Regions from separate parts of the Homo sapiens genome. Here regions 2, 3 and 4 are each linked to region 1. Evidence: fine-mapped expression QTL. A gene starts in region 1. Each other region holds a variant in brackets. All regions are shown on one strand. Distances are from middle to middle. Region 1 holds the start of TRIP4 (thyroid hormone receptor interactor 4). Region 2 overlaps ZNF609 (zinc finger protein 609). Region 3 overlaps ZNF609 (zinc finger protein 609). Region 4 overlaps ZNF609 (zinc finger protein 609).

The links. PIP is the estimated chance that this variant, and not a neighbour inherited with it, causes the effect.
Region 2: its variant is fine-mapped to the expression of TRIP4 in whole blood (TOPMed, PIP above 0.99). The same link has a PIP of 0.9 or more in lymphoblastoid cells, sun-exposed skin and unexposed skin.
Region 3: its variant is fine-mapped to the expression of TRIP4 in fibroblasts (GTEx, PIP above 0.99). The same link has a PIP of 0.9 or more in breast, stomach and transverse colon.
Region 4: its variant is fine-mapped to the expression of TRIP4 in whole blood (TOPMed, PIP above 0.99).

The regions. Positions count from the first base shown.
Region 1 is chr15:64,383,435-64,390,871 of GRCh38, forward strand. TRIP4 (thyroid hormone receptor interactor 4) reads left to right here and starts at 4,402. Exons shown (of 13, transcript NM_016213.5): 1 at 4,402-4,530. The coding sequence starts at 4,430. It also overlaps a transcript of PCLAF not described here. RefSeq lists enhancers at 4,117-4,617, 4,199-4,688, 4,618-5,118.
Region 2 is chr15:64,587,948-64,595,384 of GRCh38, forward strand. All of the region lies in intron 2 of ZNF609 (zinc finger protein 609), which reads left to right. All of the region lies in intron 4 of LOC101930091 (a long non-coding RNA gene), which reads right to left. It also overlaps the pseudogene RPS26P50. Among named protein-coding and RNA genes, the nearest start is that of OAZ2, 110 kb to the right of the region's middle. The variant C/T (reference allele first, on the strand shown) is at 3,738.
Region 3 is chr15:64,518,952-64,526,388 of GRCh38, forward strand. All of the region lies in intron 2 of ZNF609 (zinc finger protein 609), which reads left to right. Among named protein-coding and RNA genes, the nearest start is that of ZNF609, 62 kb to the left of the region's middle. The variant G/A (reference allele first, on the strand shown) is at 3,143.
Region 4 is chr15:64,682,124-64,689,560 of GRCh38, forward strand. ZNF609 (zinc finger protein 609) reads left to right here. Exons shown (of 10, transcript NM_015042.2): 10 at 1-3,945. OAZ2 (ornithine decarboxylase antizyme 2) reads right to left here. Exons shown (of 5, transcript NM_002537.3): 4 at 6,961-7,046; 5 at 5,451-6,711. The coding sequence ends at 6,581. Among named protein-coding and RNA genes, the nearest start is that of OAZ2, 17 kb to the right of the region's middle. RefSeq lists an enhancer at 3,419-3,920. The variant TG/T (reference allele first, on the strand shown) is at 2,793.

The DNA.
Region 1 (7,437 bases):
CGGCTCACTGCAATCTCCGCCTCCCGGGTTCAAGCAATTCTCCTGCCTCAGCCTCCCACGTAGCTGGGATTACAGACACGTGCCAAAACACTCGGCTAATTTTTGTATTTTCAGTAGAGACAGGGTTTCACCATGTTGGCCAGGCTGGTCTCAAACTCCTGACCTCAAGTGATCTGCCTGCCTCAGCCTCCCAAAGTGCTGGGATTACAAGTGTAAGCCACCACACCTGGCCAGCACAGTGGTTCTTAAATGCCATTATTTCCTTTCCAGTTTAAGTGGCTTCTACATAGGTCTGAATTACTTAATTTGAACTTATATTCCAGATTCCTGCAGAAAGAATAAGATAGTCTTTTCTCCTTGCCCACCTGCCAAGCAAGTTGCCAGAAAGAGTATCAAATATATATTTCCACCCGGGGCAGTCTACATATTACTATAGTTGTGTGTTTGTTTTTGTTTGCATGTTTGTCATTTTAACACCAACGATGATAATGAAGAATGCATGCTAGAGAAAAAAAAAAAGTGCTGATGCCTAGTAAAAGTTCTTCATTGAAATGTTTGCTTTGCAGAAGCAATTAAACACAATTTTTATAATGAAATAAAACACAGAGAGTGGTGTGGAGTGAACCTGAAAATTTCAAAGGCCTAGGGCATTAAGAAAAGTTACAGTATGTATCAATACAATTTCTGCCTAAATTTATTTATTTTATTTATTAATTTTGAGACAGAGTCTCACTCTGTCATCCAGGCTGGAATGCAGTGGCACGATCTCAGCTCAATGCAACCTCTGTCTCCCGGTTCAAGCAATTCTCATGCCTCAGCCGCCCATGTAGCTGGGATTACAGGTATGTGCCACCACATCCAGCTAACTTTTGTATTTTCAGTAGAGACAGGGTTTTACCATGCTGGCCAGGCTGGTCTTGAACTCCTGACCTCAGGTGATCTGCCTGCCTCGGCCTCCCAAAGTGCTGGGATTACAGGTGTGAGCCACTGCAACTGGCCTGCCTACATTTATACCAAAGAAAATCTTGGCCGGCGCAGTGGCTCATGCTTATAATCCCAGCAATTTGGGAGGCAGAGGCAGGTAGATCAACTGAGGTCAGGAGTTCGAGACCAGCCTGGCCAAAATGGTGAAACCCCATCTCTACAAAAATACAAAAACTAGCCAGGCATGATGGCTGGTGCCTGTAATCCCAGCTACTTGGGAGGCTGAGGCAGGAGAATCACTGGAACCTGGGAGGTGGAGGTTGCAGTGAGCCCAGATCATGCCATTGCACTCCAGCCTGGGTGATGGAGCAAGAATGTCTAAAAAAAAAAAAAAAAGAAAAGAAAAGAAAAAAGAGATCTTTAAGTCTTGCTAAATGGGTGTGCTTGCATTGCTCAGGCAGAAATGTAATTTAACAAATGACAGTAATAATAAATTGCATTATAATTACATCATAATTAACATATGACTTATGAGAAAAGAATGCCTTTTTCTTTTTTTGAGACAGGGTCTCACTCTGTCACGCAGGCTAGAGTGCAGTGGTGTGATCACAGTTTACTGCAGCCTCGCCTCCTGAGCTCAGGTGATCCTCTTCCAAGTAGCTGGGAACACAGGAGCTTGCCACCACACCTAGCTAATTTTTAGGTTTTTTTTGTAGAGACAGGGTCTCCTGATATTGCCCAGACTGGTCTCGAATTTCCGAGTTCAACCAATCCTCCCACCTCAGCCTCCCAAAATGCTGAGATTACCGGTGTGGGCTACGGTACCCAGCCACCTATGTTATTCTGGAGGACGTACTTATCATAACATGTATGACATACTAAATTATATTATATGAAAAAACTTAAGTCATAGTCTCTGCCTTCAAGCACTTAATGTTTTAGTTATGGAGACTGTTATGGTTAATTTTAGGTGTCAACTTGACCAGATTAAGAAATACCTAGAGGGCTTGTAATCCCAGCACTTTGGGAGGCCGAGGCGGGAGGATCACCTAAAGTCGGGAGTTTGAGACCAGCCTGACCAACATGGAGAAACCCCATCTCTACTACAAATACAAAATTAGCCGCGCATGGTGGCACATGCCTGTAATCCCAGCTACTCGGGAAGCTAAGGCAGGAAAATCGCTTGAACCCGGGAGGCGGAGGTTGTGGTGAGCCAAGATTGCACTATTGCACTCCAGCCTGGGCAACAAGAGGAAACTCCATCTCAAAAAAAGAAAAAGAAAAAAAAAAGAAAAAGAAAAAGAAATACCTAGATAACTTGTAAAGCATTGCTTCTGGGTGCCTTTGAGGGTATTTCCAAAGGAGACTGGCATGTGAGTCAGTGGACTGAGTGGGGCAGATCTGCTCTCAATGTGAGCGGGCACCATCCAATTAACCAAGGACCCAGAACAAAAAAGGTGAGAAAAAATATTTCTTCCTTCTGGAGCTGAGACACTCTTCTCAGACTTCTGCTCCCAGACATCAGAACTCCAGGCCCTCCACCTTGAGACTTGAAGATTTCACAACTTGGACTGAGCCAGCTACCAGCATTCCAGGGTCTCCTGCTTGCAGATGGCCTGTCATGGGTCTTTTCAGTCTCCATAATTTCCTGAGCCAATTCCCTAATAAATCTCCTCATAGATCTGTATCTATATCTATCTGTTATCTATCCTATTGGTTCTGTCTCTGGAGAACCCTAACACAGGGACTGAATAAATAAACAGGTAAATGACTTTGATACCTTACAATTATTATTAAATGTAGTGGAGTTTTACAAAGAAACAAAACTTGTACCCACAATTAATAAACATTCACAGAGTATTTTGACTTTTTCTTAAAAAAAAAAACCCTGGAAAATCATCTGCTTTCCAAATTAATGATATCTACGACAATCTAAATGGAATGTAAATCAATACACTTATGAGGTTTTGTTTTGTTTTTGTAAAAAGGCCTTGCTCTGTCGCCCAGGCTGGAGTGCAGTAGTGCAATCAGGGCTCACTTCAAGCTTGACCTTCCAGGCCCAAGTGATCCTCCCACCTCAGCCTTTCAAGTAGCTGAGACTACAGGCATGTGCCACCATGCCAGGCTAATTTTTTTCATTTTTGTAGAGATGAGGATTCTCCTTATGCTGCCCAGACTGGTCCGGAACTCCTGGGCTCAAGTGATCCTCTTGCCTCTGATTCCCAAAGTGCTGGCATTACAGGCATGAGCCACCACGCCCAGTGTGTGTGTGTGTGTGTGTGTGTGTGTTTGTGTGTGTGTCTCCGTGTGCGCTCGGGTGATCCTCCCGCCTCGGCCTCCCAAAGCGCTGGGATTACAGGCATGAGACACTGCGCCCGGCCAATACACTCATGATTTTAATTATAATATTTATGCCAATGAAAACACTAGCAAAAAGGTAAAACAGCTGCCAATTTAATGTGACCACTTAGTCTAAACAGGCTAGTAGAAATGAAGAACTTTTAACCTGCAAATGCAACAAAAAGCCAGAAATGAATGGGAAGACATTATGATCTCCAGAAAAGTTTGGCTAAATTTTCCCCAGCCCATTGTCTTAGCGGGGTAGGGAATTGCAGACAGCCCTTAAATACTGTCATTTTTGGTTGAGAACTCATGTGGAAAGTCCTCAAAGCCAAATTCCAACTCCTGTTTTACTGTTTTTTACCCTCGAGCTTGCTGAGTTGTCTTGGCTCTCCTGGAAAATACATGGCTCAAAAAATAAAATAGAAGTTTTAGCGGTGTGAATCTAGTAGTCGACTACAGGGGGTATTAAAAATAAACACTCCATCCCGGTTAACACGTGAAACCGCGTCGCTACTAAAAATACAAAAAAAATTAGCCGGGCGTGGTGGCGGGTGCCTGTAGTCCCAGCTACTTGGGAGGCTGAGGCAGGAGAATGGCATGAACCCGGGAGGCGGAGCTTGCAGTGAGCCGAGATCATGCCACTGCACTCAAGCCTGGGCGACAGTGCGAGACTCCGTCTCAAAATAAATAAATAAATTAATTAATTAATTAAAAAATTAAAACCACCACCAGAGCAAAAACTTACAGCGCTTACAATACCTTCCACGTGCTGTTTTATTTTACATAAAACCATGACGATTAAAAAGCTGGCCTCTCAGCTTTCCGGGTATTGGTTTGTTTTCCCCCTAAACTGTCGTTTTTATAGGCACTTGCACTGTCTTCTTAGCAGAATTGCCAATGGCCTTCCTCGAGTCCTACGTTTAGCGATTGGCAAGAATCATGCACTGACAGAGCTCGACTCCGGAGGGCACAAGGAAGTAGACAACAAAGCAGGAAGAAGCAGGAGGCGCACAGATGGGCGGGATCTGCACTGGAGGCGGTGCGACCTTGCGGGGCGGTGCAAGCTGGCGGAACCCGCGTGAGAGAGGTTGGTGTTGCGAAGGGAACTAGTCCGGTGCAGGACGTGGGGCTTTTGCAGCTCAGCTGGTTCCGGCTGGGGAAGATGGCGGTGGCTGGGGCGGTGTCCGGGGAGCCGCTGGTGCACTGGTGCACCCAGCAGTTGCGGAAGACTTTCGGCCTGGATGTCAGCGAGGAGATCATTCAGTGAGAACAGTTCGGGTCCAAGCGGGGAAGGAGCTCTGGGATGTGCACTGCCTGAGCGAACCGGGAAGCGGGGAGGACTGAAAAGTTAAGAGAGAAATGTGATAAAGGGGCTGCAGTCTGTAGTCTGTAGGCGTCGAATTTTGGCCTCCACCTTTGTAGTTTAGTTTCTGGAATAGGGTGTCCGGCTCCACAGTCTGCCGGTCGGGCTTTTTTCCTGGGAAGACGCCCAATCTGTAATAATTAGAAATGCAAGGCTGTCCCAGGAGCCAGTTTCCTTTCTAGAGAGAAGGGGCAGGTCAAACTGTATTTCCTAACTTTGAACCCCTTACTCTTTTATTTATTTATTATTATTGTTGTTATTATTGAGACGGAGTCTCTGTCGCCCAGGCTGGCGTGCGGTGGCGCGATCTTGGCTCACTGCAACCTCCGCCTTCCGGGTTCAGGTGATTCACCTGCCTGAGCCTCCCAAGTAGCTGGGATTACAGGCACGCACCACCACACCCGGCTAATTTTTAAAAATTTTTAGTAGAGTCAGTGTTTCACCATGTTGGCCAGGCTAGTCTCCAGCTCCTGATCTCAAGTGATCCGCCCGCCTCGACCTCCCAAAGTGCTGGGATTACAGGCATGAGCCACCGCACCCAGATATACTCTGAACATTTTAGTCGGCCCAATCTGAGTTGTGTCAGTAGAGCCAACAGGGTCAGCTGTGTCAATAGGACCTAGAATTTAAGTGGAAGCAGCGTGGTAGAGTACAAATAGCTTCTGACTCTGGAGTCTCAGGTTCTATATTCTGTTGTCGTTTACCTGTTTTAGAACCCAGGACAACTTAATTTTTCTCTCTGTACCCTGGTTTCTTCATTTATAAGATTAATCATTAGTAGAGCTTATCATGCTTTATGACTCCTATGAAATGGAGATGGTGTACATGACTTAATATCTACTTTCAACTGATTGAAGAACATTTGTTGCGCTGCTGTTACACGCCAGGTGCTGGGGTAACAAAGACAAGACAGTTGGGTTCCCCTTCGTTGATGAGTGCTGAGGTTGGGGAAATGAAGGGGCTTGTTGGAGCACAAAATAAAGGATTCTCATTAAGATTTGAAAAACTCGGAAGGTTTATTGGAAAGGATAACTTTCACCCGAGAACTAAGGAATAGACAGAGGTGGCGGTCCAAAGTGTTCAGGCAGGGGAGAAAACTACAAAAATGGGACTTGATCGAAGAACTGAAAGTGTTCCTTCATTTGATTCCTTGGTCACTGATGTTGAAACCTAAATTGCTGTTCTAGGGCTTTTGTAGGAAGTAAGATGAGTTTCTGAGTTTCGGAGAAAATAGACTTTTGGCAAGGAGACAGTTCAAGTAGGTTATTTTAATGGATTTTTTTGAGGCCCTAGGAGATGGCTCAAGCCCTTATTCCCAGCACTTTGGGAGGTAGAGGTGGGAGGATTGCTTGAGACTGGGAGTTGGAGACCACCCTGGGCAACATAGTGAGACCCTGTCTCTACAGAAATAAAAAAAGTAAACAACAAGATAAAGGATTTTTTTTAACACTAGAATAGACAACAAAACAAAACAGCGAAATCTTATGGTTTGGCTTTACCCTTGCTTGAACGCAGTCAGATTAAGTATTTAGTAGTTTTCAAACATTTTTTAAAGCAGTGGAATGCTATCAAATGAAATAATGAAACTTTGCAATATATAAAACAGAAAAGTGTTTTTTACGAATATAAGTTCAAAATTTTCACTTTTTTTTTTTTTTTTTTTTGAGACAGATTCTGTTGCCCAGGCTGGAGTGCAGTGGTGCGATCTCAGCTCGCTGCAACCTCCGCCTCCCACGTTCAAGCGATTCTCTTTCCTCAGCCCGAGCAGCTGGGATTACAGGCGCGCACCACCATGCCTGGCTAATTTTTGTATTCTTACTAGAGATGGGGTTTCACCATGTTGACCAGGGTGGTCTCGAACTCCTGACCTCAGATGATCCAACCGCCTCAGCCTCCCAAAGTGCTGGGATTACAGGCATGAGCCACCACGCCTGGCCCAATTTTCACATATTTATTGTAAATATGTGTAATATATTAAATATCAAATATATTAAATATTAAATATATCAAATATTATATTAAATATATTAAATATTAAATATATCAAATATTATATTAAATATATTAAATATGTGTATTATATTAAATACAGTATTAAAAAAAAAAGATTGAGGTGGCCAGGCGCAGTGGTTCATGTGTGTAATCTAAGCACTTTGGGAGGCCGAGGCAGATGGATCATTTGAGGTCAGGAATTTCAGACCAGCCTGGCCAACATGGCGAAACCCCCACTCTACTAAAAATACAAAACTTAGTCGGGTGTGGTGGAGCGTGCAGGTCATCTCAGTTACTCGGAAGGCTGAGGCAGGAGAATCCCTTGAACCGCGGGGCAGAGGTTGCAGTGAGCTGATACCGCACCACTGCACTCCATCCTGGGTGACAGAGTGAGACCTCGTCTCAAAAAAAAAAAGGAAAAAAGAAAGATTGAGGCTATTTTTGATAAATTAACAATTTGAAATAGGGTAAGAATGATAGATGTAGTCTTCTCAGTCTAGAATCCAGTTGTATTTTGTTTGGATTACACAGTATCAAGAAAATGCGTTCTCAGGCCAGGCGTGGTGGCTCACGCCTGTAATCCTAGCACTTTAGGAGGCCAAGGCAGGTGGACCACCTGAGGTCAGGAGTTCGAGACCAGCCTGGCCAACATGGTGAAACCCCGTCTCTACTAAAAATACAAAAAAAAATTAGCCAGGTATGGTGACGGGCACCTGTAATCCCAGCTACTCGGGAGGCTGAGGCAGGAGAATCGCTTGAACCCAGGAGGCAGAGGTTGCAGTGAGCCAATATCTCACCACTGCACTCCAGCCTGG
Region 2 (7,437 bases), 200 kb after region 1:
CAGGCTGGTCTTGAACTCCCGAACTCAGGTGATCTGCCCGCCTCAGCCTCCCAAAGTGCTGAGATAACAGGCATGAGCCACTGCCCAGCCAGTAGGAGGATCTCTTAAGCCCGGGAAGTTGAGACTGCAGTGAGCTGCTGCGATCAAACCACTACACTCCAGCCTGGGCAGTGGAGTGAGACCTTAAAAAGAAGGGGAAGGCCGGGTGCGGTGGCTCACGCCTGTAATCCCAGCACTTTGGGAGGCCGAGGCGGGCGGATCACGAGGTCAGAAGATTGAGACCACGGTGAAACCCCCGTCTCTACTAAAAATACAAAAAAAAAAAACAAAAATTAGCCGGGCGTGGTGGCGGGCACCTGTAGTCCCAGCTACTTGGAGGCTGAGGCAGGAGAATGGCATGAACCCAGGAGGCGGAGCTTGCAGTGAGCCAAGATTGCCCTACTGCACTCCAGCCTGCGTAACAGAGCGACACTCTGTCTAAAAAAAAAAAAAAAAAAGAAGAGGAAGACTGTACAGACTACTAGAGATTATGGCAACCTCTTTCTCAATCTTGTTTTCTTGTTTTTTGTTTGTTATTTGTGGAGATGGTATCTCACTTTGTTGCCCACGCTGGTCTCAAACTCCTGGGCTCAGGTGGTCCTCCCACCTCAGCCTCCCATAGTGCTGGAATTACAGGCATGAACCACCATGCCTGGTCTGTAGTCTTTTTTTTTTTTTTTGAGATGGAGTTTCGCCCTTGTTGCCCAGGCTGGAATGCAATGGCAAATGGCAAACTCTGCCTCCAGGGTTCAAGCAATTCTCCTGCCTCAGCTTCCCAAGTAGCTGGGATTACAGGCATGTGTCACTACGTCTGGCTAATTTTGTATTTTTAATAGAGATGGGGTTTCACCATATTGGTCAGGCTGGTCTCGAACTCCTGACCTCGGGTTCGGGTTATCCACCTGCCTCAGCCTTCCAAAGTGGTGGGATTATAGGCATGAGCCACCATGCCTGTCTGTGGCCCTCAGTCTTAATAGTGCAACCAAGAAAATGTCTCAGCTACCCAAATAGGGGAGATGGTTTACACATCAGAATGTTATCTGGGGACTTTATCTCCTGAATTTGGTCCTGGGTTGCTCAAATGAACACTAGCTAGTTCCATTTTAGCTCTTCTGATGGAGCCCAGTGTAGACTGGTACAGGAATTGTGGAGGATGTCCCTGCCTTGTGTGGACATGTTCCAACCTGAAATAAGGGTGGTCTTGAGAAGCTAAAAAAGGAGAAGAACTCAACTGATTTTTTTAATTGATGGTTTAGTAGCCAACTTCTGACCTGTTCTTAGCCTGAAAAGACCTACTGATATCAGGCTAATCATAGTTCTGAGATAAAGGTCAGTGGATGAAGCCCTTTTTGGAGGATCCCTAGGGCACATTTAATAACAACAGAAACTTCAGCAGCAGCAGCAGCAGCATTTTATCAGACTATGTTCCAGGCAGCAATACCAAATGCTTCTTATATATTTCCTTTAATTATTGCAGTAGCTCTATGCAATACACACTAGCATAATTTTTATTTTACTAACAAGAAAATTGTGGCTTAAAGAAGTTAAATAACTTGCCTAAAGTTGCACAGCCAGTAGTGGAGGCTCTATTTAAAGCCAAGATGGCTATCTTCAAAGTCCATTTGTCGTAATCATTATCTCCTATTTATCTTCATCCCCTTTACTTCTATTTGAATAGTATTTCTTTCCTTATCTCATCTGTTCTTAACCAAGGCCCTCCTTTACTTCTTCCTAAAGTAGTCCACATCTGTGGAGCTTCTCAGGAATATACTTTTTTGTGAGATTTTTCTATAAGATTAAAATTATAAATTAAATGGCTAAAAATTTTTACATACTGTAAACAGACCCAGACAGTTAAAGAGATTATAGAGATTTGGCAGGAAAAACTCGATGCTTTTGGAAAGCTCTTGATAGTATTCACAGATAAGCGATAGTGAAAATTGAGACTAATGGATACTGGTAAAAAATTAGATGTGGTATGGTTGATCATACTTGTTGTGATTAAAGCTAAAACATTATTCAAGTTTGCTAGAAAGTTGAAGAGCTGAATTTGGGCTGGATGGAGAAGGTAAGAAAAAAACACACTGCACATGGTCCTCATTTATGAACTTAAATCTTTCCTGGCTGCCAACTACTTGCTGATTAGAAATCTGAACTCCCAACCTGTATACTAGGAAATCTAGCCTTTTATTGTCCTGGTTTAAGAAGGATTTAAATTGTGCTCAGTATTGAAGTTTTTGGGTCGGAACTATTTTAATATTATCTATGAATAAATATAAGGTCATACATATTAGTAGGGGAGAGAGCGTATGGGATAAATTGATCTCTCTCTCTCTTTTGCTCTTTATTTTGAGAGAGGGGTTCTTGCTCTGTTACCCAGGCTAGAGTGCAGTGGCATGATATCAGCTCACTGCAACCTCTGCTTCCTGGTTTCAAGTGATTCTACTGCCTCAGCTTCCTGAGTAGCTGGGATTAAAGGTGTGTGCCACCACACCCAGCTAATTTTTGTGTTAGTAGAGTTGGGGTTTTGCCATGTTAGCCAGGCTGGTCTTGAACTCCTGGCCTCAGATGATCCATCCACCTTGGCCTCCCAAAGTGCTGGAATTGCCCACGTGAGCCACCTGGCCTTCATATATAGAAAATATATATTTATTTTACATACACATAACACACACACACATATACATGCATATATATATATGTATATATATATGTATCTGGGTTTAGAGTAGTCATGTAACCCAGGAAAGGAATCCAGAAATCAATATAGACCTCCTTAAGATAAGAGCAGTAGCTTTCAATGTCAGTTTACAAGGTAATGGTTATACTAACCATAACCATTTTGTGTTTGTTGGCATTAAAAACAAACACAAAATGTTATCCCTTGAAGATAAAGACAAATAGGTTCAAAAGTAGAAAACTTTGTACATTTCTGATAATACCTTAAAAAGGTCCTGAGAAGAGTAAATAAACTACCCTGGAAATGTAGGCAATACCATAGAGTTTTCTTTAAGTTCCAGAAAGCCTGGAAGTTGGTTGAGTAGTATGTATCGAAAAGCCTTAAAGGCCGGGCATGCTCGTTTATGCATGTAATCCCAGCACTTTGGGAGGCTGAGCTTGGGAGGATTGCTTGAGCCCAGGAGTTCAAGACCAGCCTCCGAGGCCAAGTGCAGTGGCTCACGCCTGCAATCCCAGCATTTTGGGAGACCAAGGCTGGCGGATCATGAGGTCAAGAGATCGAGACCATCCTGGCCAACATGGTGAAACCCCGTATCTACTAAAAATACAAAAATTAGCTGAGTGTGGTGGCATGCACCTGTAGTCCCAGCTACTCAGGAGGCTGAGGCAGGAGAATCGCTTGAACCCAGGAGACAGAGGTTGCAGTGAGCCAAGATCGCGCCACTGCACTCCAGCCTGGGCGACAGAGACAGACTCTATCTCAAAAAACAAACAAACAAACAAACAAAAACAGCCTCCTCAACAAAGCGAGACCCTGTCTCTATAAAAAATGTTTTAAAAAAAGCCTCAAAATGTGCATACCCTTTTACTTGCTTATATGTAGGACTTCACCCTATGAAACTAGTGAAACAGGTGCAAAGATATTTCTCTCAGCCAGGCATGGTGGCTCATGCCTATAATCCCAGCACTTTGGGAGGCTGAGGTGGGTAGATCGCTTGAGCCCATGAGATTGAGAACAG[C/T]CTAGGCAACATGGTGAGGTCCTATCTCTACTAAAAATAATTTTTTTTTTTTTTTGAGACAGAGTCTTGGTCTGTCACTAGGCTGGAGTGCAGTGGCACGATCTCGACCTACCGTGCACCGGGTTCAAGTGATTCTCTTGCCTCAGCCTCCCAAGTAGCTGGGACGACCGGCACACACCACCACGCCCAGCTAATTTTTCTATTTTCAGTAGAGATGGGGTTTCACCATGTTGGCCAGGCTGGTCTCAAACTGACCTCAGGTGATCCGCCCGCCTTGGCCTCCCAAAGTGCTGGGATTGCGAGTGTCAGCCACCACACCCGGCCTTTTTTTAATCAGCTGGTGGAATGTGCCTGTGGTCTCAGCTACTTGGCAGACTGAGATAGATCACTGGATCACTGGAGCTCTGGGGGTCAAGGCTGTAGTGAGCCATGATTACATCACTGCACTCCAGCCTGTCAGCAGAGGGAAGACCCTGCCTCAAAGAAAAAAAAAAAAAAGATATTTCTCTCAGCCTTGTTTATACAAGTGAAAATTAGGACAACCTAAATATCCATCTATAGTTAATTGGTTAAATGAATCGTGGTTGGTTTGTTCAAAATAATTCTATTCAGCTGGGCATGGTGGCTCACGCCTATAATCCCAGCACTTTGGGAGGCCAAGGCAGTTGGATCACTTGGGGCCAGGAATTTGAGACCAGTCTGGCCAACTTGGTGAAACCCCATCTCTACTAAAAATATGAAAATTTAGCCAGCTCTGGTGGCAGGTGCCTGTAATCCTAGCTACTTGAGAGGCTAAGGCACGAGAATTGCTTCAACCCAGAAGGTGGAGGCTGCAGTGAGCTGGGATCTCGCCACTACACCCCAGCCTGCATGACAGAGTGAGACTGTCTCAAAAAAATAATAATGGTAATAATTCTGTTCAAGCATTTAAAATTATGTTTTAAGTTGGCCAGGCATGGTGGTTCACGAGGCCCGCAATCCCAGCATTCTGGGAGGCCAAAGCAGGCAGATCACCTGTGGTCAGGAGTTCAAGACCAGACTGGCCAACATGATGAAACCCCATTTCTACTTAAAAAAAAAAAAAAAAAAAATTAGCCCGGCATCTGAAATACCAGCTGCTTGGGAGGCTGAGGCAGGAGAATTGCTTGAATCTAGGAGGCAAAAGTTGCAGTGAGCTGGGATCGCGCCACTGCACCCCAGCCTGGGCAACAGAGCAAGACTCTTGTCTCAAAAAATTACATAAATAAATAAAATAAAAATAATGTTTTTGCTCTCTCCGGTCCGTGCCTCCAAGATGACAAAGAAAAGAAGGAACAATGGTCGTGCCAAAAAGGGCCGCGGCCACATGCAGCCTATTCGCTGCACTAACTGTGCCCGATGCGTGCCCAAAGACAAGGCCATTAAGAAATTCGTCATTCGAAACATAGTGGAGTCCGCAGCAGTCAGGGACATTTCTGAAGCGAGCGTCTTCGATGCCTATGTGCTTCCCAAGCTGTATGTGAAGCTGCATTACTGTGTGAGTTGTGCAATTCACAGCAAAGTAGTCAGGAATCGATCTCGTGAAGCCCGCAAGGACCGAACACCCCCACCCCGATTTAGACCTGCGGGTGCTGCCCCACGTCCCCCACCAAAGCCCATGTAAGGAGGTGAGTTCTTAAAGACTGAAGACAGGCTATTCTCTGGAGAAAAATAAAATGGAAATTGTACTTAAATAAATAAATAAAAATAATGTTTTAAGTTATAGCTAATTGACACAAAAATGTTCACGATGCAGTGAAATTCTGATAACCTTTCATAGTCTGAAAAATCTAGTTGTTCTAGGAGAAATAAGTCATCCAGAATGTTCTCTTGTTTGTTTTTGAGACAGGGTCTTGTTCTCTCGCCCAGGCTGGAGTGCAGTGGTGCAATCACAGCTCACTGCAACCTCCGCCTCCCAGACTCACGTAATCCTCCCACCTCAGCTTCCCCAGTAGCTGGGACTACTGGTGCGTGCCACCATACCTGGCTAATGTTTTATATATTTTTTGTAGGTACAGGGTTTCACCATGTTGCCCAGGCTGGTCTCAAACTCCTAGACTCAAGTGATCCACCTGCCTACAGTGCTGGGATTACAGGTGTAAGCCACTGTACCCAGCCATTCCAGAACATTCTGATGATTCAACCATAACTCATTTCATAGTATAATTGAGTGGATAAGAAGGGTTGGTGTTTGCTGTCTCGCCATATTAATAGTTTTGTGTTGGAACTCCTTGACTGTCAATCAAGTATTATGTTTGAGGAAGATGTAAACATTTAATACTTTTAAGATTAGGAGAGGTTTGAAGGGTTTTATGTCATGAACACACATATTAAGGAAGAAGCATGGCTCTGCCCTCTTGAAAGACTAAAGAAATATTCCATCAGCAGTTTACTTTAGAAGAACTGAAAGAATAGGTTGATACTGAACCCACTCCCAGAGCCAGGTAGCTGAAAGGGCACTGTGATTGTTATCTTACTAGGAACACGTGGAGTGGGAGTAAGGCAGTTTTCTGCAGAAAAGAGGGATTCTGGGCAGACAAAAACTACATATGCACTATGTTTTGTTTTGTTTTTTTTGTTTGTTTGTTTTAAATTAAAACCAGAAAAGGCGAAGACTTGGAGAATGCTCAAAATTTTTTTTTTTTTTTGACACGGGGTCTCACTCTGTCACCCAGGCTGGAGTGCAGTGGTGTGATCTCAGCTCACTGCAACCTCCACCTCCTGAGCTCAGGTGATCCTCTCACCTCAGCCACCTCAGTAGCTGGGACTACAGGCTCTTAACACCACATCTGGCTAATTTTTTTTTTGTATTGTTGGTAAAGACCGGGTTTCACCATGTTGCCCAGCCTGGTCTCTAACTCCTGAGCTCAAGCAGTCTGCCTGCCTCAGCCTCCCAAAGTGCTGGGATTACAGGCATGAGCCACTGCACCTGGTCACAAAATGTAAAGATTTTGAGGGCCATTGATTTTAAACTCCAGAAGCTGGTCCAATCAGAATGAACGTAAGGATTTTTGTTAGTGTGATTAGAAAAGAATGTGTCTCGGCCGGGCGCGGTGGCTCACGCCTGTAATCCCAGCACTTTGGGAGGCCAAGGCGGGTGGATCATGAGGTCAGGAGATCGAGACCATCCTGGCTAACAAGGTGAAACCTCGTCTCTACTAAAAATACAAAAAATTAGCCGGGCGCAGTGGCGGGTGCCTGTAGTCCCAGCTACTCGGGAGGCTGAGGCAGGAGAATGGCGTGAACCCGGGAAGTGGAGCTTACAGTCCGGCCTGGGCAACAGAGCGAGGCTCCGTCTCAAAAAAAAAAAAAAAGAAAAAAGAAAAGAATGTGTCTCTTTCTACTGGGTTTGGAGCTGTGAGTTTATAAAATTTGGGCCGGGCGCGGTGGCTCGTGCCTGTAATCTCAGTACTTTGGGAGGCTAAGACAGGTGGATCACCTGAGGTCAGGAGTTTGAGACCACCCTGGCCAACATGGTGAAACCCCGTCTCTACTAAAAATACCAAAAATTAGCCGGGCGTGGTGGTGGGCATCTGAAATGCCAGCTACTTGGGAGGCTGAGGCAGGAGAATCACTTGAACCCGGGAGGCAGAGGTTGCAGTAAGCTGAGATCATGCCACTGCACTCCAGCCTGGGCGACAGAGGAAGATTCCGTCTCAAAAAAAAAAAAAAAAAAATCGAA
Region 3 (7,437 bases), 140 kb after region 1:
TTTGGTCCTGCTCTTTCTAGGGCATACGGTTTAGTAGGGGAGATAGAATGGAATCAAACAATCATATGCACATCTATCATTTTACACTATTAAAATTATAAAAGTGAAAGTTATAGGATGCTGAGAGCCTATAATTAGGAACTGAACCATTCTTGGCGGGTGCAGGGCGGGGGGCGGGGGGCGGGGGCGGGTCAGGGAAAATATCCGTGAAGAAGTTTGAGTAAATATCTGAAGGATAAATGGTAGTTAATTTGGAAGAGGGAGTTGAATGAATGAACAACCAAGTAGAAATGTCTCTTGAGGACTGGATGTGTGAGAGAGAGAACTGGAAATCTAAAGATTTAAGAGTTTATTAATGTGAACACATAAATGGTAATTGATGCCATAGAAGTGAGTGCACTTACCCAGGAAGAATGTGTCTGTATTGAATGAAAGGGGCTCAGTATGGGTCACTGAGGAACACCAAGAAGGTAGCTACCTTAGTTGGCATATTGGGAACTGCTTCCTTGTGTCCTAGAGAGAATACAAAACCCACAGCTGGGAACATATGTCTATACAAACATTTTAAAATCCACTGAAAGAGGTTATAGAACTTGCTTGGTTCTGTAGTTAGAATTGGTTTTATTGGATTGAGGCACACTTTGAGGAAAAGTTCGTTTCTCATGCCACTTATGAACAATGGAAGAGTGATCTTTGCTTTTTATTTTAACCATTTGCCATATTTTCCCTGCCTGGCATCATCACTCTCAACTTTTTTAGTTTTCCTTTTTTCTTTTTTGACCTAATTTTCAGTTATTTAAACTCTCAACTTCTAATAGTATTAAAGTGAAAGCATAGATATTGTAATCAGGCCTATGTTTGAATCCCAGCACTGACTGCCATTTAATATATATAGGATCTTCTGCAAATTACCTCTCCGTATCTCATTTTCCTTAGATTTTATATGGTTTTAATTTAAAAGATCTAAAAGTACACTGTAAATGCACAGTATATGGAGGTTATAGTATAATAGTTACAGGTCAGCAACAAATGTTTGTTCTATTTTCCTTTCTCCTTGCAGCCTCTCTTGTCTTTCCAGGCAGGTGAGTAGTTTCATCTGTGATCATTTATGCTCTGTACCACCTCCTCATGGCAGTATGTTACAGCAGCTTTTCTACCAGAGCATAAGGAGTCTTGCATTTTTGTGGTAAAAGTCCTTTCTGGAGAAGCAGTACAGGAAGGTTTCTGGGTTGCTATAACCAGGATTTTTCAACAACAACACTATTGGTATTTGGGGCTAGGGTAATTCTTTGTTGTTGGGGTGGTCCAGTTTATTGTAGGATGTTTCACAGCATCCATACCTTTATCATATTCGCTCCAAGGTAAGACAACCAAAAATGTCCCCAGACACTGCCAAATATCCCCTGGAGGGCAAAGTTTTTATTTGAGCACTATTTGCTAAAATATTGTTGTGGATGCTATTTACATAACTGTGTGTTCAGTTTATGAAAATGCAGAGTTGTACATATATGATATATGTAGTTTTCTGTTGTGAATGTTGTTTCCGTAGAAAGTAGAAAACCAAAGGCAGTTAGAGAGCCAGGCTCCCTAACCTGTGTCTCAGTTTTTATTATCCCCAAATCTCTATTTTTCTTTTTGTTTTTTTATTCTCGTTTTCTTAAATTTTTGGCTAATATTTTTTTTCCCACACGTTCTGGTATTCTCCCCAAATCTCTAAAAGGTGAGGTGAAATTAAGGGAGAAAAGGGTTCACAATAGAATGGGAAGACAACAAAAAGTAACCGAGAAACTGACTTCCAAATGTCTCTTCAATTCCTAGCTGTTAGGATATGGAATTCAACCTAGGGAAATTTCTATTACAAGATTTCAGAAATAAGCTCTGAGTACGGGACAGAATTAAATTATCAGCCGAAGAGATTATTTTATTATCTTTCTTCCCACCTTCTCTGCTACACTGACAGCAAAGGAGAGGCTCACCTGATTTTCGTCACTTCAGCTGTTACCTTTACCTGATGGCCACTGAAGTTATTTCTGAAAGTGTTCGCTTTTACTTTTAATTTAAAATCTTTCCGTTCTTCTTTACTTTGTACAGGTGGGTAGAAAGTCCTTCCATATTAGATAATGTTGACTACCCCCTGAGAATGTAGTCCCCAGAGAAATCCTTGGATAGCACTCAAGCTGGAAGCAATAGGTTAAGTAACCCACGTCCATGTCTTAAGAGGAGTCCAAGATAAGATCCCATTTTGAAGTTTGAAAGATCCTGTAAAGGGAAGGCAGACCTTGGGCCAAGCAGCCTTTGAGGTGGTAACCAGCTCATAAACAAGAGCTGGCATGTGCCAACAAAGTCTCTCATCCTGGCTCCAGAGTTGGCTGAGGAGAGAAATTTGTGGAAGCCTCTGTAAGTGGAGGATTGTTCTTGGCTTTGGCTTTTGTGTGGCTGGATATGGAGTAGGGAGGGAGCTTGGACCTGGTCTCTGGGGTGTAGGCATTTCCCTGAGAGGAGGATTTTTTTTCCTTTCCTTGTTTTATTTTTTCCTCCCTGTCCTTCCCTTAGTGTTAACATTTCAAGGTACAGGAAATGATTGGATACTGATTGTTTTATAACTCTCTTAGGACAGCCTATTAATATTCTGCTGCCAAGACGACAGTCAGGAGGAATTTAGGTAGAATCAAGGCTCATAACCTTTATGAAAATACCCTAAGCAGGGAACCTTCAATTTATTTTGAAGTGTTTGAGTTTTACTAAAAGCCCATCATTGCCAGTGTGGTTTTTTAAAATGGACAGCCATAGTGGCTAAGGAGACCAGTAAGACCTGGAGTTGGCAGCAGAGTGAGCCTTCTGAGGAAAAAAGGAAGAGGAATATTGGTGTGGGAAAGAGGTGCAGCTGTGCCACTGGATCCCTGTCCCTTCATTATTCTTTACTGGCCCTGGCAGCTGTCAAAGTTTGCTTAATAGAGTTGTGGGCTGGAGATTGTTTCTTAATCCCTGTATAGGAGTACCAAGCTCCAGCTGTGTTATCTAGGCTCTGGGGCCCTAGCACTTGGCCAACTAATGCTGAGGCATCTGGTGACTCGAGACAAAAGCCTATTATGTCAGAGAGAAGATTGGGCAAAGCACAAGCATTGTTATCTCTAATGCCCCC[G/A]GGGCAAACTCTGTACTTGGCAAGTGAGAATGCCTTGACCTTGTGAGTTTACAGCAACCTGTCCACTCGGTTTTCTGTTTCTTTGAGATTATTTTCTACTAACGAGGTTTCAGCATTCTGGCATTGAAATCTATAAGTGCTTTATTGTAAAGAATTTGGAAAATTCAGAAAAGTAAAAGGAAGAACATAAAAATTGTACTTCATTCTACCAGATTCTTAAGAGAAGAATTTCTTTAATGTTGTGGAACTGGCTGAGATTATTGGTTCAGGACTGGCTTGGGCATGATCTATACCTCATGAATCTCAACTCTGTCCCTTTAAGCATCTTTAATTTTCCCATTAGAGATCTGAACTGGTTTGGCCCTGCTTGGCTAGATTTTATTACAATTGATGTGATCTCACCCTGGAGTATGAAACTCATCTTCTTTGTTTAGCTTTTTATAACTTATCTCAAACCAATTTTTTATCTTCATTTGTGATTGTCTTCAGAAGTCTGGGTGTTTGTTTTTTTTAAACTGATGGTGGTGAGTATGTAGGGAGAGAGTAGTTTTGCAATTTTTAAAGACTTAATGTTGACCTGCTTTCTTCTCTTTGGAAAGAGGTGTCTGTGATGTCAGTTAACATAATTTGCTTTCGTTGATGAGCTTGCTCAAGACATAAGCTTATGAGATTTCTAGTTGTATAAAAAGAAAAGGGCTGTCTTTCATGTTTTCTTTTCCTTGCTGGAGTAGCATTTTAGTTAAGGAAGTTGCACAAAAAGAAACCCATCTTTTTTCTGTGTAATTTTCTATATGGATTTCTATGTTGACCAGTCTAGACCTTTTGTCTATTCGATGTTTACATAGATGTTTAGATTTAACTTTTAATACATTGTGGTTAAAAAAAAAAAAAAAGGAAATTTTGGTGCAATAGAGAAAAGTATTTTGGATTTATTTATTGTTCCTTTTAAATGTTAAAATGAGGCAGGAATACAGTACTTGCAGCCTATTGTCTAAGAGTACTCTTTGACATTTATAATATCAGGTATAAGCATTTCCAAAAGAGATCTTCCTTAACATACCATACCCTTAATGATCTTTTGACAGGACAGAAATGGGGAGAGATGTTAGCAGGGTATATTTTAATTTATATTCTCCAAAAGTATACATCCTATACTATGATGAATTATTATAGATTTTATTTTCATGTAATATGGACTCCCTTGCATAACTGGAGAGAAACAGCTTCCAATTAAAGTAATTATGCTAGCAGCTCTGAGACTACTCTTTGGAACTGTTGTCAGCACTTTGGTTTGAAGAAATCAGACCAGGATTGACTGCCTAATAGTAGGCTTTTACCAAGAGCCTGACATAAGAATTTCAGGAAATCTAGGAAAATCTTTGAAAATCTGCTATATTATAGGCCGGGCACAGTGGCTCAAATCTGTAATCCCAGCACTTCGGGAGGCTGAGGCGGGAGGATCAGGAGTTCGACACCAGCCTGGCCAACATCGTGAAACCCTGTCTCTAAAAATACAAAAATTAGCCAGATGTGGTGATGCACACTTGTAATCCCAGCTACTTGGGAAGCTGAGGTGGGAGGATCGCTTGAACCTGGGAGGCAGAGATTGAAGTGAGCAGAGATCACGCCACTGCACTCCAGCCTGGGCAACAGAGCAAGACTCCATCTCAAAAAAAAAAAAGAAAAGAAAATCTTCTATGTTATAAACTTAAATTTCATGTGAATGGAAGATTGAGAAATGATGGCTGATGGCCTAAGCTCTGGGTAGAATTTCAACTTTTTGCATGTTTATCAAATGGCTTTAATGTTCCTGCCTTTTCCTGGTTATTATTTAAAAAAAAGTAATGTTTCCAGAAACCATTTAACAACTGATAACTGGAAAATTTTTTGGAAGAGGTTAGCTAGACAGGTTATACGGGTTTTTTTTTTTTCCTCATACAGTTTTTTTAAAAATTGAGAAATAATTCATGTTTTCTTTTTTTTTTTCAGTATACAATTCAGTGGTTTATACTATATTCACAAACTGTGTACCCATCACATCACTAATTCCAGAATATTTTCATCTCCTCAAAAAGAAACCCTGTACCCATCAGCAGTCACCCTAATTCTTCATTTTACTTAGCCCCGGGCAGTCTACTTCTGTCTCTCTAGAAATTTCATGTAAATGGAATCATACAATCTGTGGCCTTTGGCCGGGCGCAGTGGCTCACGCCTGTAATCCCAGCACTTTGGGAGGCCAAGGCAGGCAGATCACAAGGTCAGGAGTTCGATACCAGCCTGACCAACATGGTGAAACCCTGTCTCTACTAAAAATACAAAAATTAGCTGGGCGTGGTGGCACATGCCTGTAGTCCCAGCTACTTGGGAGGCTGAGGCAGGAGAATTGCTTGAACCCGGGAGGTGGAGGTTGCAATGAGGCAAGATTGCGTCATTGCACTCCAGTCTGGGAGACAGAGCAAGACTCCATCTCAAAAAAAAAAAAAAAGGGGGGGGCCTTTTGTGTCTGACTCCTTTCACTTAGCATAATCTATTGTAGCATGTATCAGTACTCCATTCCTTTTTATGGTTGAATAATATTCCATTATATAAATATACCACATTTGTTTATCCATTTCATCAGGTGAGGGATATTTGGGTTTTTTCCTTATTTTGACTGTTAATGGATAATGCTGCTATGAACATTCATATACAAGTTTTTGTATGGACATATGTCTTCAGTTTTTTTTATTATATACCTAGGGATAGAATTGCTGGATTATGTGGTAACTCTTTGTTTAACTTTGTTTGGAGCTGGCAAACTGTTTGCCAGAATGTAAATGGCTGTGCCATTTTACATTCCCGCTAGCAGTGTACAAGGATTCCAATTTCCCCACACTTTCAACAATACTTGTTATTGTTCATTTGTTTAATAATAGCCATCCTGGTGGGTGTAAAGTGGTATCTTGTGGTTTTGACTTGGATTTCTTTAATGACTAATGATTCAGAACATCTTTTCATGTGCTTATGTGCTTGTATATCTTCTTTGAAGATATCTGATTCTTTGTCAATATTTTAATTAGGTTCTTTGTAAGAATATATTCTGGATACTAGTGTTTTCTAAGATTTTTATGGTTATAGCTCTTACATTTAGGTATTTGATCCATTTTGAGTTAATTTTTCTATATGGTGTGAAGTAGGGATCCAGCTTTAGTCTTTTACATGTACATATGCGGTTTTCCTAGCACCAATCGTTGAAAAGACTATTCTTACCCCACATTGAATTTTCTTGACACCCTTGTTGAAAATTAATTGACCATAAATGTATGGGTTTTTATCTAGACTCTCAGTTTTGTTCCGTTGATCAACATATCTATCCTTATGGCAGTATTACAATCTTGATTACTCATCTTTGTAGTAAGTGTTGAGAATTGTGAGTCTTTCAACTTTATTCTTCTTTTTGAGATCGTTTTGGCTATTCTGAGTCCTTTGCATTTCCATACAAATTTTAGGATCAGCTTGTCAATTTCTGCAAGAAGCAGGCTAGGATTTTGATGGAGATTGTATTGAATCTGTCAGTCAGTTTGGAGAGTTCTGCAATCTTAACAATAAAAAATCTTCCAATCCATGAACATGAGATGTCTTTCCATTTATTTATAACTTCTTTAATTTCCATCAATGATGTTTTGTGGTTTTAGTGTACAAATCTTGCCCTTTTTCTTTTTTTTTTTTGAGACAGAGTCTCACTCTGTCCACCAGGCAGGGGTACAGTGGCACAGTCTTGGCTTGGATCACTGCAACCTCCACCCACCAGTTTCAAGCGATTCTCCTGTTTCAGCCTCCCAAATAACTGGGACTACAGGTGCACGCCACTAAGCCCAGCTAATTTTTTGTATTTTTAGTAGAGCTCGGGTTTCACCATGTTGGCCAGGCTGGTTTCCAACTCCTGGCCTCGAGTGATCTGCCTGCCTAGGCCTCCCAAAGTGCCGGGATTACAAGCATGAGCTACCACGCTCAGCCCTGTTTTTTCTTTTCTTTTTTTTTTTTTTTTTAAGCCAGTCAAATTTAGGGGTTGTACACCAAAATCTTGCACTTCTTTTGTTAAATTTATTCCTGAGGATTTTATTCTTTTAGATGTTATTTTAAATGGAATTGTTTTCTTGATTTCATATTTGGATTATTCATTGCTAGAGTACAGAAATACTATTGTTTTATATGTACTGATCTTGTATCTCACCACCTTGTGGAATTCGTTTGTTGGCTCTGATATGATTTTTGTGCATTCCTTAGGATTTTCTATATATGAGATCATGTTATCT
Region 4 (7,437 bases), 300 kb after region 1:
GCAGCCATACCCCTCACCATCATTACCACCATCACCAGATTCTGCATCTCCCTAGTGCTTTGCACCCTGGGAATTGGCAGCATGTGGAGGAACTAGAATCTCAGGAAAGAAATTGGGGGTTGTTTTCTACATAATTGTGAAAACAAGGTCTTCAAATGTGGAGACTTCTCCCCATTTACATGAGCACATATAAACGCTCACAACCTAGCCTGGAAAGGAAGACCAAGGCATCTGCCCCAACATGGCCTTGAGCTGCCTGTGAGGCAGGGGGCAGGGGTTCCAACACCAGCACAGGGCTCCCCAGGGACACTGGGAGCAAGCTGGTGCTGGAGCATGAATGACGTCTGTGAAGTAGAACCTGCGTCCCCACTAAGTCCTGCTGCTTCTTATTCCCCAACTCCTTGCCCTTTTCCCTTCCCTCCTAACCCCTTGGTGCCTTTCCCAGGGGGATCCCCACACTGGTCTTGCCTCTTCTTTTCCACTGCTTGGCTCTTAAGCCTCAGGCAGATAAACTAGTATTCCCCCCAGCTTGGGGAACCTTGGAGTCTGCCAGGTCACCTTAGGGCAAGGCCCAGAAGGCAGCCCCTGGGAGCACCCAGCAGTTCTTGGAGATGTCCTGTCATCTAGCCATCTGATATCTTCCTCATTTGAGGCCACAGATATATACAGCCCAATTCCTCTGTCTACAAGTACATGATTTTATATAGCTCAGTCTATAACCTCCATGTGGGCCAATATAAGCTGTGTTTCTTGGTAACACATATTTTGTTTGAGGGGCCACTGGCCATGGGAGGTTATTTGTTCCTTAGACCCTGGAATAACACATCCAAGCCATTACTTATTAGAGTCTCAGAATGTACTCAGTGGAGCTGTGCTTTGAGGCAGCCAACATTTCTCTGCTCTCCTTAGAAATGCAGTCTCCCAATGGAAGCTTTATACTCTTTGTACTGGGAAAGTGAGGATGATTTGGTAGCTTTATTGGGGTCATGTCTTCCCCAAGGTGTGGGGAGCTTAGCTTACTTGGCTTTTGAGGTATCATCCCTCTGTTCTCCCCTCCTATCTTTCCATGACCCTCTGGATTGAGAGAGAGAGATAAAGACTGACAGACACCAGTGTAGGCTGGAAAAGGGAGTGTGTGACCAGAGTGCCAAAAGTGACTAGGAGCAGGAACTTGGCTCCGACTCAGTTTGGAAAATGGGAAATAGGGGACAGTAAGCACAATGCCCAGTAGTAGTTGATTTCCAAGGACCCTGGAACCCTACACTTGAGAGGCTTAGGGTCACCATCTGCTCAAGAGGATCCCCTCTGATCTACAGGCCTTTTCCCTAGGTTTCTGCCTCCTCGTTTTTGTTCAAGTTGGGTTCTGAGTCCTCCCCAAAAACCATTGTTTTAGACCTCTTGGCAGGGCCCCAAAACAGCCTCCCTCATACCCATCATTCCCTCTGCCTTCTGCTGCCCTCATGGGCAGTGCTCTGAGCAGTGACCTCCCTTTCCTCCGTGGAAGTAGCTAGTGCAGACACCGTCATCCCACCCCACCTGAGTCACCCCAACCAAGAGGGTGACTGAATTTCAGCCTGATTATGCCCTCCTGGGGCTCCTGTGAGGTGGAGCCAAGGTTCCCTCTCTGTTCCTGTTTGTTTTTAAATATTGTTGTGTGTTTTGTATCTGTGGCACTGGCCTGCAGCATACTCTGTATATATTGTAAAGAAACCGTTAGGAGTAATTTTCTTTTGCATTGGGCAGGCATGGCCCTGCATTCCTGCCCTTTCCACTCATTCTGTAACACAGAGGACGAACTTCTGTATTAGCTGGGCAGCCTTGGGTTCTCCAGAAGAGAACAGGTTTTTCTTTTCCTTTTTAATTTTTCTTCTTAAACATTTGGCTCTTTGATCCTCATATCCAAGTCTCCCCTGAAGAGTAGGAGCTGCTCAGAAGAGCAGGTGAAAGCCACCATGGCAGATCCTGATGCCTGCCGGGCCTAGTCTTCCCTCTGAAATAACATGAAGCAGCAGCTGTGGAGATTCTTGACAAGTGCTGAGTGAAAGATTTGCTGCCCACCTCTACATGGGGAGGAGAAACACAGGTGGGAGCTACCTGTGGCATCCATGACCTAGTCAGAGGGATGAGATGCTCAGCAGGGGTCCCCATCCTATCCCACCCCACAAACAAAGGCTGGAAAAATTTGCTACCAAGGGCCAAGACCACCAGACCAAGCCTGTTTATGAGCCACCCCTGCCCAGGCCCTCACAGACATTGCTCACGGGGCTTCCCATAGAGGAGAAGCTAAAGAGGGAGGGGGCCTCATCCCCAGATAGATCAGGCAAGGCTTGGAGAGCTGCTCTTTAGGATCCACATCAACTACTTCCTCATTTTAAGGTATGGCAGTTCCCTTCATCCCCTTTTCCTGCCTTGTACATGTACATGTATGAAATTTCCTTCTCTTACCGAACTCTCTCCACACATCACAAGGTCAAAGAACCACACGCTTAGAAGGGTAAGAGGGCACCCTATGAAATGAAATGGTGATTTCTTGAGTCTCTTTTTTCCACGTTTAAGGGGCCATGGCAGGACTTAGAGTTGCGAGTTAAGACTGCAGAGGGCTAGAGAATTATTTCATACAGGCTTTGAGGCCACCCATGTCACTTATCCCGTATACCCTCTCACCATCCCCTTGTCTACTCTGATGCCCCCAAGATGCAACTGGGCAGCTAGTTGGCCCCATAATTCTGGGCCTTTGTTGTTTGTTTTAATTACTTGGGCATCCCAGGAAGCTTTCCAGTGATCTCCTACCA[TG/T]GGCCCCCCTCCTGGGATCAAGCCCCTCCCAGGCCCTGTCCCCAGCCCCTCCTGCCCCAGCCCACCCGCTTGCCTTGGTGCTCAGCCCTCCCATTGGGAGCAGGTTGGGGCGAGCTGGAGGCCCGGGCTGGAGGGGCAGTGTTGCTGTTCATAGATTTTGTTCCATTGGCGTTGCTCTGTTGAATTTAATTTCAGTCTTCCTGATTCTTCCCTTCTGTAAAGTGTACATTACCAAGTTCCTTGTTTTTTTATATATATATATAAATATATATATATACAAACTGTACTCTTTTTGCCTTTGTACATTCAGGCAAGAAGAGAAAATAAATCTTTTTAAGAGACAATCACAAATCTGTGAGGGCTGCTGGTTATTTCTCCTGGAGTTTGCTGCTGAGCTGCCTCTTCCTTCCTCCCAATTTTCCTGTTCTCCCTCAGCTCTCCTGATCTTCCTGGCCCTGCTCCATATGCATCCTCAGCTTCACTTTCCCTGGCTGATGGCAAGCTGTTGAATCCAGTGTCCAGACTACCTGCCTTGTAACCCTTTTCTGCCCAGCATTGTTTTCTGGCTTGGCCACTGGCTTAGCCCAGGAGCTTTACTCTGTGCCCTGGCCTCCCCTCTCTTCACCTTTAGATTTCCATTCACCGAAGTGGCTTTGGACCCCTGGGTACTCTGGGACCTGTTTCCTGGAGGCCCTGGCTTGGGACACTCACCTGTGAAACTATGCAGCTGGGAGCTCTCTGCCTAAGAGTTTGCACTATTTAAACCTGCCTGGGAGTTAGGACGGATGGTTTTAGGAATGACCGGAAAACTACCCCTAAAACTCCCCCGACATTCCAGCCTCTAGAATGCTCTGATCCAGAGCTCAGTGGATGATTCCCAGCTGGTGGACTCCTGTGGCTACCCCATCAGAACAAGGGCTAAGGGTTTATGGGTCAAGAGTATTTGATCAGAATTTTAAAGGGTGGTATACTCTGAAACACAGCCCAACCAAACCATTGTTTGGCCGCTTTCTCTTTTCCTCTACCTTCCTCATCCCCACTTTTTTCCCTTTCTCTCTACTTCCTCTTCTTAATTGGCTTTGGAATTGAAATATATTTTTAAATTATTTGTTGTATTTATTGAATAAAGTTTTTAATGTCCCTGTTCTTAAATTTAGACTTAGTTTGCCTTTCACACACCACCCCCACCCCCAAAATATTCTACCTTCTAAGTTGCTTTTTAAACTGTAGTGCAGCCTTTTGGGTACCATATTTCTTTCCTGTCAGTGGTCTTCAATAGCAAAAGTTTTTTTTGAAAAGGGAAATCTTGACTGGGTGATTTTTTTTTGAAGAGGGAAATCTTGACTGGGTTTCCAATTTAGCCTTTGTGACTCTAGCCGTATTGAAGAGGAATCACCAATAGGTGGCAGCAGAATCTCAAGCATGTTTCTTGGGAAAAAGTAAGGGACTGAGTTTTGTCTTGGTTCTTTTTCATCTGTCTTGTCGATTCCTTGTGTTTGTTTAATATCTGCATCCTAAACTGCCAGCTGCCTCTAGGAATTACCTGCCCAGTGGGGGACACTTGATTTCAACGGAATGTCTCTAGTCCCAGACTTGCTCTAATAACATTTGCCAGGCACGGTGGCTCACGCCTGTAATCCCAACACTTGGCGAGGCCGAAGCGTGGGAATCACTTGAGGCCAGGAGTTCGAGACCAGCCCGGGCAACATGGCAAAACCCTGTCTCTACTGAAAATACAAAAAATTAGCTGAGTGTGATGGTGGGCATCTGTAATCCCAGCTACTCAGGAGGCTGAGACAGGATAATCACCTGAACCCAGGAGGCGGAGGTTGCAGTGAGCTGAGATTACACCACTGCACTCCAGCCTGGGCGACAGAGCGAGATTCCATGAAAAAAACAAAAACAAAAAAAAACTTGGGATTCGAGCTCATTACTTTTAATGAATACAAGTTAGAGTCCAAGATAAATGACTTGGCCCACAGTGAAAACACAAGCAGGCTCCATAAAGAGCAATGTGAGAGCCACAGCTTAACAGTAGACAGTTGCAAAAATGTAGGTGGAAGAACATGCCCTTCAATTGGCAAAACAGAAGCAAAAGAAAAAAAGTGCCAGTAAATCCTTGAGAAATTAAAAAAACTGTGGTGAAGAGGATTCCAGCCCCCTTGGTACCACTGAGAGCTTATTCATCAGGCTGTGGTGTGGGGGACTGGAAGCCACACCTTAGGACACTGAGCTCCAAAAGGGGAAAACTAGAACAGGGAAGGTGTGTGCTGCATCCTTCAAAGACCTCAGGAATGGGAATGTCAGGAGCTCCATGCAAAAGCCAAAACCCAGTATCAGGACCCAACCTCCCCAGCCTTTTACAGAAAAGGAAGAGCTAAGAGCAGATTGGATCTTGGGTATAGCCTCTCCTAGATGAAGCTGATATGTACACATCTCTCTCCAGGGGGCTCTGGCAGTAAGTCTCAGACTCCTAGCAACCCCGCATTTCACAGTGTAATATGGCCCCAGAGAGAGACCTCAGCCAGTTTATCTGCCCTCCTACACTGCAGTTTTTTTCCCAAGGAGCACGCACCACACCTCTATTTATTAGGCTCTGGAGTCAAAACAGTTTGGTAGGGAGTTGGTCCTAGTTCAGAAATAAAGAATAGACCAACCACAACTTTAAATCAGTTTATTGACACAGTAACACAACACACTTGCCTCCCTGACATCCCCGTCCCCCTCACCCAATCTAGATCTCTCCCCCTTGCTCTCCCCTTAGAAAAAGCTGTTTAGTGAAAACAGTTAAGGGCAGGCCACTTCTACACTCCCAGCGCTACCCTAGGCCCTGCAGAGCAGAGTCTCAGACACTACTCGGAACCTGGTGGGGAGGCAGCTAGTACTATACTCAGCCAGCCAGAAGTATCCAGTCCCTAAGAACGGATTGCCCCACAATTCCCAGGCCCTGAGTTGCTATATATTCCTCTTCCTTACTGCTGTTTGTGACCCCAAGAAGGAGACCTTGGGGCCTGGGCCTGCAGCCAGGAGCAAGAACTCCTGGCAGTGATTTGAGAATTAATTAGAGTTTGGCTAGTGTTTTAAAGGCCCAGGCATCCCCCAAAAAAGCCCTGGTGGTGGGAGTAAATTTCAATGCCCCTATTTAAAATGTACTGATAACATTAAACAGATTAAGCCAGCTTAACCAAATGCCAGAATAACACTAAGCTGTAAAGAAGGAGGGGTCGGACCTGCTTACTCCAGGCCAGACGCAAATGCACACAGAGAAGCCCAGGTAAGAGTGTCAAAAAACAACTCAAGGACACTGCCCAGGGACTGAAAAGCCTATACTCAGGAGCCCCTGGGGTGACAGGAAGCAAAGAAAGAAAATACACAAGTCTTAATAACCAAAACAGAAAGCCAACAGCAGGGAAACCTGAGCCTGACAGTGCTGCCCACCAGCCCTCCAGGCCATGCCCCTGAACCCAGACAGTCCCTCCCCCTCTAGGCAATGTCCTCCCCTAGGCTAGATAGAACACATCACACAGCGCAGTTTAGAAAGCTTCTAATGCCAGTTCATAAACATCTTCATTTACTATTGGTGATTACATGTGAATAATATGTTTATACTGTTCTTTATGGAAAACAATTTCAACGAGTCAACTCCGAGAACACAATAGGCAACCCTCACCCTGAGCCCCTCAGTGTCCTTCCCTAGACAGCGAGGAGCCCTCTCGTCTGTCCCAGGGCTGCCTAACTTCCCCTCTTCCCCCACTGTGGCTCTTGGGTAAAGCATCCTCTATGACTATTAGTCCTCATCGGACAAGTTCTGGTCCAGGGGATAAACCATGAACATCACATCTGGCCGAGAGGGGACACAGGGATGGCCTGGACGTACAATCTCAAAGCCCAAGAAGCTGAAGGTCTTCAGGAGTGGAGCTGCAGAAGACAGAGTGTAAAAAAGTCTGATGAGAAACACAATGGTAGGCTGAAATCAAAACCCCAAACAAAGATGGAACAAATAAGCACTAGGCTTTTACGAGCCCTTCAGGCACTTGCCCTCCTGCCATGATTTCCCAGGGTTTGAAAGGCAAATTCAAGAGTCCCACCTCATCCTGGAGGTGCTCCCTTCTCTCCCCCAGGCCCCACTGTCTGGGCTGTAAGGCTCAGGCCACTCTGACTCCTCACCTCTGTCTTCTCGGCCCTTCCTGAAGCAGATGAAGACATAGTTCACTTTCATCTTCTCTTCAGCAAACTCTAGCAGTGCTAACAATCTGCAGGAAGCAAAGAGAAGTACTTAGGCCCATCACCACCTTCCTAGACCTCCCTCCCATTCACACCCCACCCCCACCCCTACCAACCCAAAGGCTTTTCTGAGGCCTACAACCAGCAATATAAATACAGAAGCTCTGGGCTGGGCACAGTGGCTCACACCTGTAATCCCAGCACTTTGGGAGGCCGAGGCAGGTGGATCACGAGGTCAGGAGATCAAGACCATCCTGGCTAACACGGTGAAACCCCATCTCTACTAAAAATACAAAAAACTAGCCGGGCGTGGTGGTGGGCGCCTGTAGTCCCAGCTACTCGGGAGGCTGAGGCAGGAGAATGGCATGAACCTGGGAGACGGAGCTTGCAGTGAGCCGAGATCGCACCACTCCACTCCAG